2 separate regions of the Homo sapiens genome follow, and region 1 is linked to region 2. Evidence: fine-mapped expression QTL. A gene starts in region 2. The other region holds a variant in brackets. All regions are shown on one strand. Distances are between the middles of the regions. Region 1 overlaps LYPLA1-TCEA1 (LYPLA1-TCEA1 readthrough). Region 2 holds the start of TCEA1 (transcription elongation factor A1).

Region 1 (5,379 bases), 55 kb after region 2:
TATATATCTTTATGTATAACATTATTTGGGTTGGGTTTTTTAATAGTACTGCAAAAAGTACATTTAATTTAATTTTGCTGCAGGTACAAACCCGTAGTGCTGATGAACCAATGACAACATTTGTTGTCTGTAATGAATGTGGAAATCGATGGAAGGTATGGACTCTCTTGGATTCATATTATATACTCACTTAAAATAGAAAGATTTCTTCTGGTCTTTTCATAGGTCTGCCTAGATATCTAAATATATACAGATATGCTCACACTATACAGTACTCTTGTACTCCCTGACTACTTGTAATGGAATATACCATCTTGTTACCCTACTAGAAATAAAGAGTATTAACTTGACTTTACCACCTTTATTTGTTTTGGTGCAGGAAATGGGGAGTGAATCTTAACTGTTCAATTATTATATCACTGTCCTATTTATACTATATTCATTAAGTTGTTTTGACTCTTGTACTTCCAGAAAATCTATACATGTGTATTACTTGTTTTAATAGATTTTGATTTTGGAAAATTTTTTTTCCCTTGTTGAAATCAGACCCAATGATTTTAGTGTTTATTTTAGAAATTACAGATGAGCACTGCTGTCATTTGGTAGGCTTTTCACTAAGCCTTCATATTGCCTGTGTGCTCTTGAAATTAGTCCCACACAGGCAAGTTTATATTATTTAAATGATTCATTCTTGAGGGATTTTGTGAAACAAAAGCATAAAATTTAAATTTGGGAGCAGAAATACATATCAGTACTAAAAACATTTTAATCATTATTATAGATGAGGATGTTAAGGGTGTGAGTTTGGGAGGCTTACGTGGTAGGAGTTTAGTCTTTGGAATCATACAAACTGATTTTGAACTCCTTTGCCACTTCCCATTACTGAACTATATTGTTCTTATGTATTAAATGTAAATAGTACCTACATTTCGGATTGTGATGAAGAGTAGAGATAATATATTTAGTGTGCCTGATAATTGTTGGTGTTCTAAAAATGCTGGCTATTTTTATTAGTTTTTCTGAAGTTTGTACAAGATTCTTTTTTTTTTCATTTATACTTACATAGACTTTTCAGTTTAATGCTCATTTTGAATTATTCACTTAGCTTAAAGCACTTTCTGAAAATCAGAAATGAACTAGAAGCCATTTGGGCCAGAGTCCCAAACCATGTCGAAGATATCCATTTGGCTTCTTCAACTCCACTTTAAGGGGTTGGGGCCAGTACCTATTTTGTTTTATTTATTCATTAATTTTTTTGAGATAGATCCTCACTGTGTTGCCCAGGCTGGAGTGCAGTGGCGCTATCTCAGCTCACTGCAACCTTCGCCTCCCAGGTTCAAGCGATTCTCCTGCCTCAGCCTCCCAAGTAGCTGGGATTACAGGAATGTGCCACCATGCCCAGCTAATTTTTGTATTTTTAGTAGAGATGGCGTTTCACCATGTTGGCCAGGCTGCTCTTGAACTCCTGACCTCAGGTTATCTGCCTGCCTTGGCCTCCGAAAGTGCTGGGATTACAGGCGTGAGCCACCGTGGCCGGCCCAGTACCCTTATTACGTACAAAGATTTAGTTCTGAGCTGGAAAGATTACTGCTACTGAAAGTGTCTTCATGGTTTGAAACAGTATTTCCTACCCATCTCAGGTTGCAGAAGTTGTCATTGGTCTAGGAGAGGGACATTCACCTTCTTTTTCAATCGTGTTGAGAAAATTTGGCCTGTTCTCTTGGATTTGTTTTGCATGATGGATCTTTTTTGTTGTTGTTGTTGTTTGAGATGGAGTCTTGTTCTGTGGCCCCGGGTTCAAGAGATTCCCCTGTCTCAGCCTTCCGAGTACCTGGGACCACCATGCCTGGCTAATTTTTTGTATTTTAGTAGAGACGGGGTTTCACCACGTTGGCCAGGATGGTCTTGATCTCCTGACCTCATGATCTGCCCATCTCGGCCTCCCAAAGTGCTGAGATTACAGGTGTGAGCCACCGTGCCCAGCTGATGGATCATTTTTATTATGGTGATGAGGTGTACAGTGCAGTTTGCTTTGAATACATGCACTTTGTGACACAAGTTTTGACATAGTACTTAATTGAATTTAAGAAAGTTCAATTTTAGGATAGAAAGCTGATGCCTAGAGTGGCATATTTTAGAAGTTCAATTTTGGAATTGTTATTTTTTTTTTTTTAACCTTAAAAACATTATAAAGAGGTATTTAATAAAAATGCTGAAATTGTTTTATACAAGTTCTTTAGTTGTATGTTCCTAGTAGTTCTAAGTTGGGAAAGTCAGGCACTTAAGATAGGTGATTATTATGTGTGAAAAATACAGCATCTTTTTCAAAAATGCATCTTTTTTAAAAGCAATATCAGGTGTATGCTGTATTAAATGGGGAATGTACCTTATTGGTATTTAAAGGTCTTACAAAATATTTTTTCTTTTTTGACAGTTCTGTTGAGTTGGAAGAATTGGCAAAATATCTGGACCATTAAGAAAACGGATTTTGTAACTAGCTTTAAACTAGGCCAAGCAACTAGTTTTCCTGCAAATCAAATTTTTAAAGCAACTTGGGTTAGACTTTGTTTTTGACCTAACATCCCTTCCTTAAATGCCTTCTGTAGTTTCAGATCAGTAGGGAGACCATATAATAATT[T/G]TATGGTACCTGTTTCAAAACATATTTTTTCTGTTTTTATAAGTAAGTTGATATTAATTAAACTCTTGGCAATATTTCTTCTTTCTTAAAGGAAAATATACCTTAACTTTTTTTCTTTTACACTGTGAAACATACACAGTAGAAATTCTGTTACTCTCTGTTATTAATACATAAATGAAAATACATTTTTTTCCATATTGGCATGTAGCTACAAATATTAAAGGAGGAGAAAAGGTAATATAATTTTAGGTTTACCAAATATGGTGTGTATTCAAATAATACTTGACCAGCTTATCTAAAATGTACATAATTTTGAGGTAGCTTATGAATTTGATTTTAATTATTATGTTCACAAGCTTGGAATATTAGATATTATTTTGCATCTGTAACTAACCGTGATCATCATTTCTTGTAATTTCTTGTACATGTATATTACTTGTTCTTAATAGATTTTTGGAAACAAGACTTTATTGAGATCAGTTTGGTTTTCCTGTTAATTTACCTGTTTGACTTTATAATGTGTTTTAGTTTTGCAGAAGAACACTGTTGTAGTTTAGAAGGCTTTTCATAAATCCCCTCATAGGCAAAGATGAAAACTTCCCACTATTTTTTTCCCCTCTTAGGAAGACATACTGGAAAGAAAATGTTTAGCATCTTAGTGTAGTATAGCTATTGTAAACAGTTCATGACTAGATTTTGATTCGGAAATCTATACTGACCAAGGATTAATCTTAAGGATTGTATAATTCATTAAAGCTGTGGTCTTTCCATGTGGAGACTGATAGAAAATAATTTTGTCCCAAGTCTTATTTGCTGACTTTTTCTGTCATGAGTGAGATTGTTGAACAAACTGAATATATGGGCTATAGCAAGTAGCTTTACAGTACAGATCTTACAATTAAGTTTTGCTTTTGTTAAAGTGTGTACCATTTTTTCTGTTTGGAGTAAGACAAAAATTGTTTTGACATAGGTTCCCTAGGGTACACTTGCTCTAGCATACTTTAAAGGCCACTGTTGCAAAGTCTACATTTTATGCTGAATCTGCATTCTGTCAGGCACCCGTAGAAAGACCTCAGTACATGCTTTGCACTCTCCTTTGCTCCCTTTTTCCAATTTCTTATTGCATATCATTTTGTTGTAATACAGAAAGCAGCATTTTTAAATGTCCGTGTTAAGAATTGGCCCACTGGTACCAACTCACCTCTATTTTGTCAGTTCATAGTTGAAGATTTTGTTTTATTTCAAAAACAAAGTACATTTTTGAAATAATGTTTCAGAATAAAATAATCTCACTTTTAAGTGATCCATTTTAAAATTTGTAATTCAATAAAGTTTTTTTTGTTGTTAAACATATATCACATTTTGTCATTTTATTTAGACAATGAAGCTTGCTTTACCTTTTGTTTAACCACACACCTGCTGTCCCCTCAACTACTAAGGTATTTCTAAAGTACAGTTTTAATTAAGTGAAGCCTGGTCTTCAGTAAAAACTAGTATTCAGCAGCATTACAGAGCATGTTTTCTTTCTTATCTTTTCCTGGACCTCTGGCGATGGATGGAATGGCAGGTTCTGAGTAAATACGTGAGTGCATCCCATGTGTACACTTAATTTAATGTGAGAGACCAAATAGTGAGTCTTGCTATTGGAAAATACTAGACTTTATTTATTTATTTTTTTATTTTTTTGAGATGGAGTCTTGTTCTGTCACCCAGGCTGGAGTGCAATGGTGCAATCTCGGCTCACTGCAACCTATGCCTCCCAGGTTCAAGCGATTTTCCTGCCTCAGCCTCCCAAGTAGCTAGGATTACAGGCGCCCGCCACCATGCCCAGCTAATTTTTGTATTTTTTAGTAGAGATGGCATTTCACCATGTTGGTCAGGCTGGTCTCGAACTCCTGACCTCAGCTGATCCACCCACCTCGGCCTCCCAAAGTGCTGGGATTATAGGCATGAGCCACCGTGCCCGGCCCAATACTAGACATTTGTAAAGTAATCAGAAGTAAATATTAAGGGTAGTATTTTATGATATTTACTTTGAGGGCAAAGTAACTTTGTTAAATGAACATGCAAAGGAATTAGACAAATATACTAGCAGATAATGAAGAACCATCCTGGGGAAAGCAGAAAATGATAATCTTGGTTTTCTAGCTTACCTGGATGATGACGAGCATTGGTTTATAAATTTTGCTAAGCTGTGGCAAAAATTCAGAAATATTTATATTCACCCAATCACTTAAACCTATATGTAATCTTACAAATGGCAAATATTTTAAGTATTAAGAAGACAGCAAAAGAAATAACAGGCTGTGCTTTGAATTATTATAGCTACATAGTCGTTGTCCTTGTGGGTCAAATTGTAATTTGTGGATTTGAATTGACTTTATTTCTTTTTTCTTTATTTCTTTTTTTTTCTTTTTTTGGAGACAGGGTCTCACTCATTCACCCTGACTGGAGTGCAGTGGCACAATCTGCTCACTGCAACCTCCACCTCCTGGGCTCAAGTGATCTTCCCACCTCAGCTTCCCGAGTAGCTGGGATTATAGGTGCACGCCAGCACACCCAGCTATTTTTGTGCTTTTATTAGAGATGGGCCATGTTGCCCAGGCTGGTCTTGAACTCCTGGGCTAATGCAGTTTGCCTGCGTCAGCCTCCCAAAGTGCTGGGATTACAGACTTGAGCCACTGTGCCCAGCCATTTCTCAAAATAAAAACTACAGTTAGAGTTGTGATTTAGAGAGTTTC
Region 2 (5,379 bases):
ATTCTAGGATTCTATTTATTAAATATATAAAATGTTCAGAATATTCAAGAGTATAGAGGCAGCCAATTAGTGGTTGCCAAGGGTTGAGGGGAGAAAGGAATCAGGAGTGACTGCTTAATTGATACTGGGTTTCTTTTTGAGGTGATGAACATTTTTGGAAAACTTTTGGGAACTATCGAGTGGTGATGGTGGCACTATATTGTTATCATTAGAAATGCCACTGAATTGTACACTTTTTTATTTTATATTTACTTATTTATTTATGTTTGAGACGGAACCTTGCTCTGTCACCCAGGCTGGAGTGCAGTGGCGCCATCTCAGCTCACTGCAACCTCTACCTCCTGGGTTTAAGCGATTCTCCTGCCTCAGCCTCCCGAGTAGCTGGGATCACAGGCGGCCACCACCAGGACCAGCTAATTTTTGTATTTTTAGTAGAGACGGGGTTTCACTATGTTGGCCAGGCTGTTCTCGAACTCCTGACTTCAGGTGATCCGCCCACCTTGGCCTCCCAAAGTGTTGGGATTACAGGTGTGAGCCACTGCGCCCAGCCAGAGATCTTTATGTTTAAACATAGGTATCTACAGCTATACATTTCCATCTGAGTGTTGCCTTTGCTGTATCCCATGCACACTGGGTATGCACACACCAGGCCTTTACACTTTAAAATAGCTAAAACAGGCCAGGTGAGGTGGCTCACACCTGCAATCCCAGCACTTTGGGAGGCCGAGGTGGGCAGATCACCTGAAGTCAGGAGTTTGAGAACACCCTGCCTAACATAGTAAAATCCCATCTCTACTAAAAATACAAAAATTACCAGGGCGTGGTGGTGGGCACCTGTAATCCTAGCTACTTGGGAGGCTGAGGCAGGAGAATTGCCTGAACCTGGGAGGCAAAGGTTGCAGTGAGCCGAGATCACGCCACTGCACTCCAGCCTGGGTGATAGGCCGAGACTCCGTCTAAAAAAAAATAAAAAATAAAATAAAATGAATTAAAATCTAAAAAAATAGTTAAAAATGGTCTTAGACAAGGTAGCATGAAAAAAGAAGAAAAGTAGTTAAATGGATAAATTTTGTGTTATGTGTATTTTAAAGAAAAACATCAACTGATTCTTTGGGAAAAAAGAAAAATGACAGAATTATTACAATAAATGTACAAATCCACATTATAAAGGGAAATTTTTACATACTCATTAATTGAGGCATGAAGCAGACAGCAAACAGGGATGTAAATATTGCAACATTTTCTGTAGAAAACAATTTTTTTCTGTGTGTTCTTTTTTAGAACACATAGATATGCATAAAAATTGACGAGATAGGCCGGGCGCAGTGGCTCACGCCTGTAATCCCAGCACTTTGGAAGGCCGAGGTGGGCGGATCACCTGAGGCCAGGAGTTCGAGATCGGCCTGGCCAACATGGTGAAACTTTGTCTCTACTAAAAACACAAAAAATTAGCCGGGTGTGCTGGTGGGCGCCTGTAGTCCCAGCTACTCAGGAGACTGAGGCAGGAAAATCGCTTGAACCTGGGAGGTGGAGGTTGCAGTGAGCCAGCCGAGATGGCACCACTGCACTCCAGCCTGGTCAATAAGAGCAAAACTCCGTGTCAAAAAAAAAAAAAAATTGACAAAATAAATCTCAACAAATACTACAATTTAAGCTGGAAATCAATAATAAAAAGATAATTTAAAAATGAAACAAAATAGGGAAACGATCCCAATACTTCTCCCCCAAATGAGTGAGTCATAACCAGGAAAAACCTGTCATCTCAGTATAGAAAGAACATTATTAGGCGGTGTATTTTGATGAATGATAGTTACGTGGTGTGGGAGTTATACCTGCAAATAGCATGAGTTGGTCGTGAAGGGTTTAAGTGGGGAAAGACTTTTTGGAGGAGCCTGCATTCTCCACTATGAACCCTGTCACAACTTAAGTCACCTTCCTCTCTGATCCTCAGAAGCTGGTGGGATGCCTTGTGTAATTTCTGACCAGAAGGTTTCCGTCAACTGTTCTTCAACTATTCAAAATGCCATGCCCAAGACTGGTTCTTAGTACTCCAGGAGCTCACGAACGATTTCACCTTTATTTATTTTTTATTTTTTTTGAGACGGAGTTTCGCTCTTGTCGCCCAGGCTAGAATGCAATGGCAGTCTCGGCTCACCGCAACTTCCGCCTCCCGGGTTCAAACGATTCTCCTGCCTCAGCCTCCCGAGTGGCTGGGATCACAGGCCATGACGCCCGGCTAATTTTGTATTTTTAGTAGTGACGATGTTTCTCCATGTTGGTCAGGCTGGTCTCGAACTCCTCACCTCAGTTGATCCGCCCGCCTCGGCCTCCCAAAGTGCTGGGATTACAGGCATGAGCCACCGCGCCCGGCCGATTTTTTTTAAAAAAAGGAACGCTTAGCCGGGTGCAGTGGCTCAGGTCTGTAATCGCAGCACTTTGGGAGGCCGAGGCGGGCGGATCACTAGGTCAAGAGATCAAAACCATCCTGGCCAACATGGTGAAACCCTGTCTCTACTAAAAATACAAAAAATTAGCAGGGCGTGGTGGCGGGCGCCTGTAGTCCCAGCTACTCGGGAAACTAAAGCAGGAGAATCGCTTGAACCCGGGGGGGGGAGCTTGCAGTGAGTGGAGATCGCGCCACTGTACTCCAGCCAGGCGACAGAACGAGGCTCCGTCTCAAAAAAAAAGGAACTCTTAAAACGAGTAACTCCGTAACCTAACTTAGAGGACACGGGTTCCATTTTTCCCCGTAGCAGTCTCCTATGGAGAAAGTGCTTGGCTTCCCACAGACTTTAAAACCTGCCAAAGTTCCATGCTCGGAATCTGCCCCCGTTTCGAGATACTTGGGCCTCCGCGAGTTCTAAAACTCCGGGATGTCCCGATGCAATAGGGGGCCGAAAACCCGCCCCGTGAGGGGGCGGGACCGGAGGTGAACGCGCAGCAAAACCGGGCGCCTTCCACGACCCTCTAGCCGGAAGCCACGCCTGCCCACTAGCCCGACGCCCGCCTGGCGGGAACATGGGCTCGCCCCTCACCAGCGATCTGCAGTCAGTTGGTAGCGCCTGCACGTCGCGCGCGGTGTTCGATTGTCGCTGCCTGGGGAGGAGGAGCCGGAGCCGCCGCCGCCGCCGCCGCCGCCGCGGGCTTCGTTCGTAAGGAAGGGGGCCTAGGCCCGGGCCTGCGGTGGTGGGGGTTGCTGCGCGCCGGGGGTCGCTCCTGCTGTGTCTTCCGCTCCAGCTTCGCCCACTTCCCCTTGCCAGCGGGGTGGGCGCGGAGAAGACCTGCCGGAGCCATGGAGGACGAAGTGGTCCGCTTTGCCAAGAAGATGGACAAGATGGTGCAGAAGAAGAACGCGGTGAGCGCGGCGAGCGGCGCGGGCCGGGAGGGAGGCCGGGCCGCGGTCCGGCCCGAGGGGGCCGCCCCCTCCCTCCTTCTCCCTCCCCTCCCCCTGCAGCCTCCCGTCTGGGAGCCGGGCCCGCCGCGCCCGCGTCCCCGGGGAGGGTGTCCGGGCCCGGGGCGTCGGGTCCCGCGGCAACCTGCGTTAGGACCCGCTCGCTCTTGTATTTCCAGTCCCTGCTCGCTGGTGCCGTGTAATAAACCTAATCGATTTAGGGATTAGGGCACGCTCTCCGTTGACTTTAAACTTTCGTGCTAGTAAAACCTTGGCAATTTAGCTTAGGAATTGAAGCGTAGAAAGTCCTCAGAACTTGAAAGAATGGAGTCTTCCGTGATCCGTGGCCAACATCTAGAAAGAGCATCAAATAGAGGCTTGTGATCGGTATTAGACATCGGGCTGGTAAAATGTAAAACTTCTGTGTCTTATTTTTGAAGAGGGCTGAACGTCCGCCTGGTTATCTCAACTGTGCTACATGTTTGCTTAGCGATTAAAAAGGTAAAGTGTGCCAGTTTCTTGGCGAGTTGCTAAACGTTTTATAAAAAGCGGGTTTTGTCCTGTCGTAATGTACAGAAGAGTTAGGACTACAGCACGCACACTCACCGGAATGCTGGTAGAGGGATTTGGACAAATTATATTGTTGGGTATTTTCTAAGTGGTTTACAGTTAATACTGGTGGCATTTTTTTTGTTATTGATGAATATTCATGTAAGCATATGCTTTTGTGGTTTGTAAGAAATCCTCATACGACCAGTTTCTACAGCTTGCCCATTTGTGTGGCACTTTCAGTCCCTTGCTTCAGACTCATCTGTTCTTAGCTAAACATATTTTTTCGAGACGGAGTTTAACTCTTGTTGCACAAGCTGGAGTGCAATGGCTTGATCTCGGCTCACTGCAACCTCCGCCTCTCGGGTTCAAGTGATTCTCCTGCCTCAGCCTCCCGAGTAGCTGGGATTACAGACGTGCGCCACCACGCCTGGCTATTTTTTTGTATTTTTAGTAGAAACGGGGTTTCACCATCTTAACCAGGCTGGTCTCGAACTCCTGACCTCAGGTGATCCGCCCACCTCAGCCTCCCAAAGTGCTGGGATTACAGGCGTGAGGCCACTGCGCCTGGCCTCTCAGGTAAACTTATATAATTGTCCTCACCTAAATTTGTTTAACCACGTTCGGCACATTTTCATCATCAGTGTACCTGAAATAATTTTTCTTCCATCTATGAAGTAAATTCCATGTCAAACTAATGTGAAGAGAAAAGGGATGCTCTGATTTGTACAGCACTTTGGAGTTAAAAAGCATCTGCTCAAAATTCTTTTGTGACTCACACAGAGCTGTGAGTACATAAAGGGTATCCATTTTACAGATTAAGACACTGAGAGAGATTAAGTACTACTACTTAAATTAAGTACTGTGTAGTTTGGAATAAGCCAGGACCCAGGTTTTCTTCTGGACAGCATGCTTTCCACATGACAGCTAGATCAGGAATTAGTGTTAACACTAAATACGTAAGACTTCAAACATCCTCTGTTCCCCTTTTTCCTTTAACAGGTGCATTGCCTCGTATTTCATTTCATACCCTGTTAATCTGTATTTGCAAATTTTGGCCTTTTAAAGTATTTCCTGTTTATTTTCTGTTCTAGATATTACCAGTGCCATTTTTCCTCCCCATTGATATGGCCCTTCATTTCCCACTTCAAATTCTGGTTATTTGATAGGTTATCTGGTTATTGGAACATTTTCGTTATTTTGTTTAAACTGGAAGATTTTTCTCTGGTCTGGAGATCCCCAGACTTGCACAGTAGAAGCTCCCAGGGAAAAAAAGCCATTTGTTGGGTAATGTTCTCTCCAACTTAGGCTGTAATATGTATCCTTTAATCATCTAATGCATTAGATGTTTGCTTGATTTTGTTTCTTTCCTTGTAATAATGTTTCTAAGTAATTTTTTAGTGGGCAGGTGTGGAGAAGATAAATTCATATTTATCTGC

The links. PIP is the estimated chance that this variant, and not a neighbour inherited with it, causes the effect.
Region 1: its variant is the best candidate, but not a certain one, in a credible set for the expression of TCEA1 in blood mononuclear cells (TOPMed, PIP 0.76).

The regions. Positions count from the first base shown.
Region 1 is chr8:53,965,168-53,970,546 of GRCh38, reverse strand. LYPLA1-TCEA1 (LYPLA1-TCEA1 readthrough) reads left to right here. Exons shown (of 21, transcript NM_001425842.1): 20 at 84-155; 21 at 2,435-3,991. The coding sequence ends at 2,443. TCEA1 (transcription elongation factor A1) reads left to right here. Exons shown (of 10, transcript NM_006756.4): 9 at 84-155; 10 at 2,435-3,991. The coding sequence ends at 2,443. Among named protein-coding and RNA genes, the nearest start is that of TCEA1, 55 kb to the left of the region's middle. The variant T/G (reference allele first, on the strand shown) is at 2,639.
Region 2 is chr8:54,020,039-54,025,417 of GRCh38, reverse strand. It overlaps TCEA1 (transcription elongation factor A1), which reads left to right and starts at 2,970. Exons shown (of 10, transcript NM_006756.4): 1 at 2,970-3,355. The coding sequence starts at 3,293. All of the region lies in intron 12 of LYPLA1-TCEA1 (LYPLA1-TCEA1 readthrough), which reads left to right. It overlaps LOC133039971 (Uncharacterized LOC133039971), which reads right to left and starts at 3,385. Exons shown (of 3, transcript NR_189620.1): 1 at 3,036-3,385. RefSeq lists silencers at 1,917-2,224, 3,352-3,521 and enhancers at 1,646-2,437, 3,032-3,181, 2,438-3,231.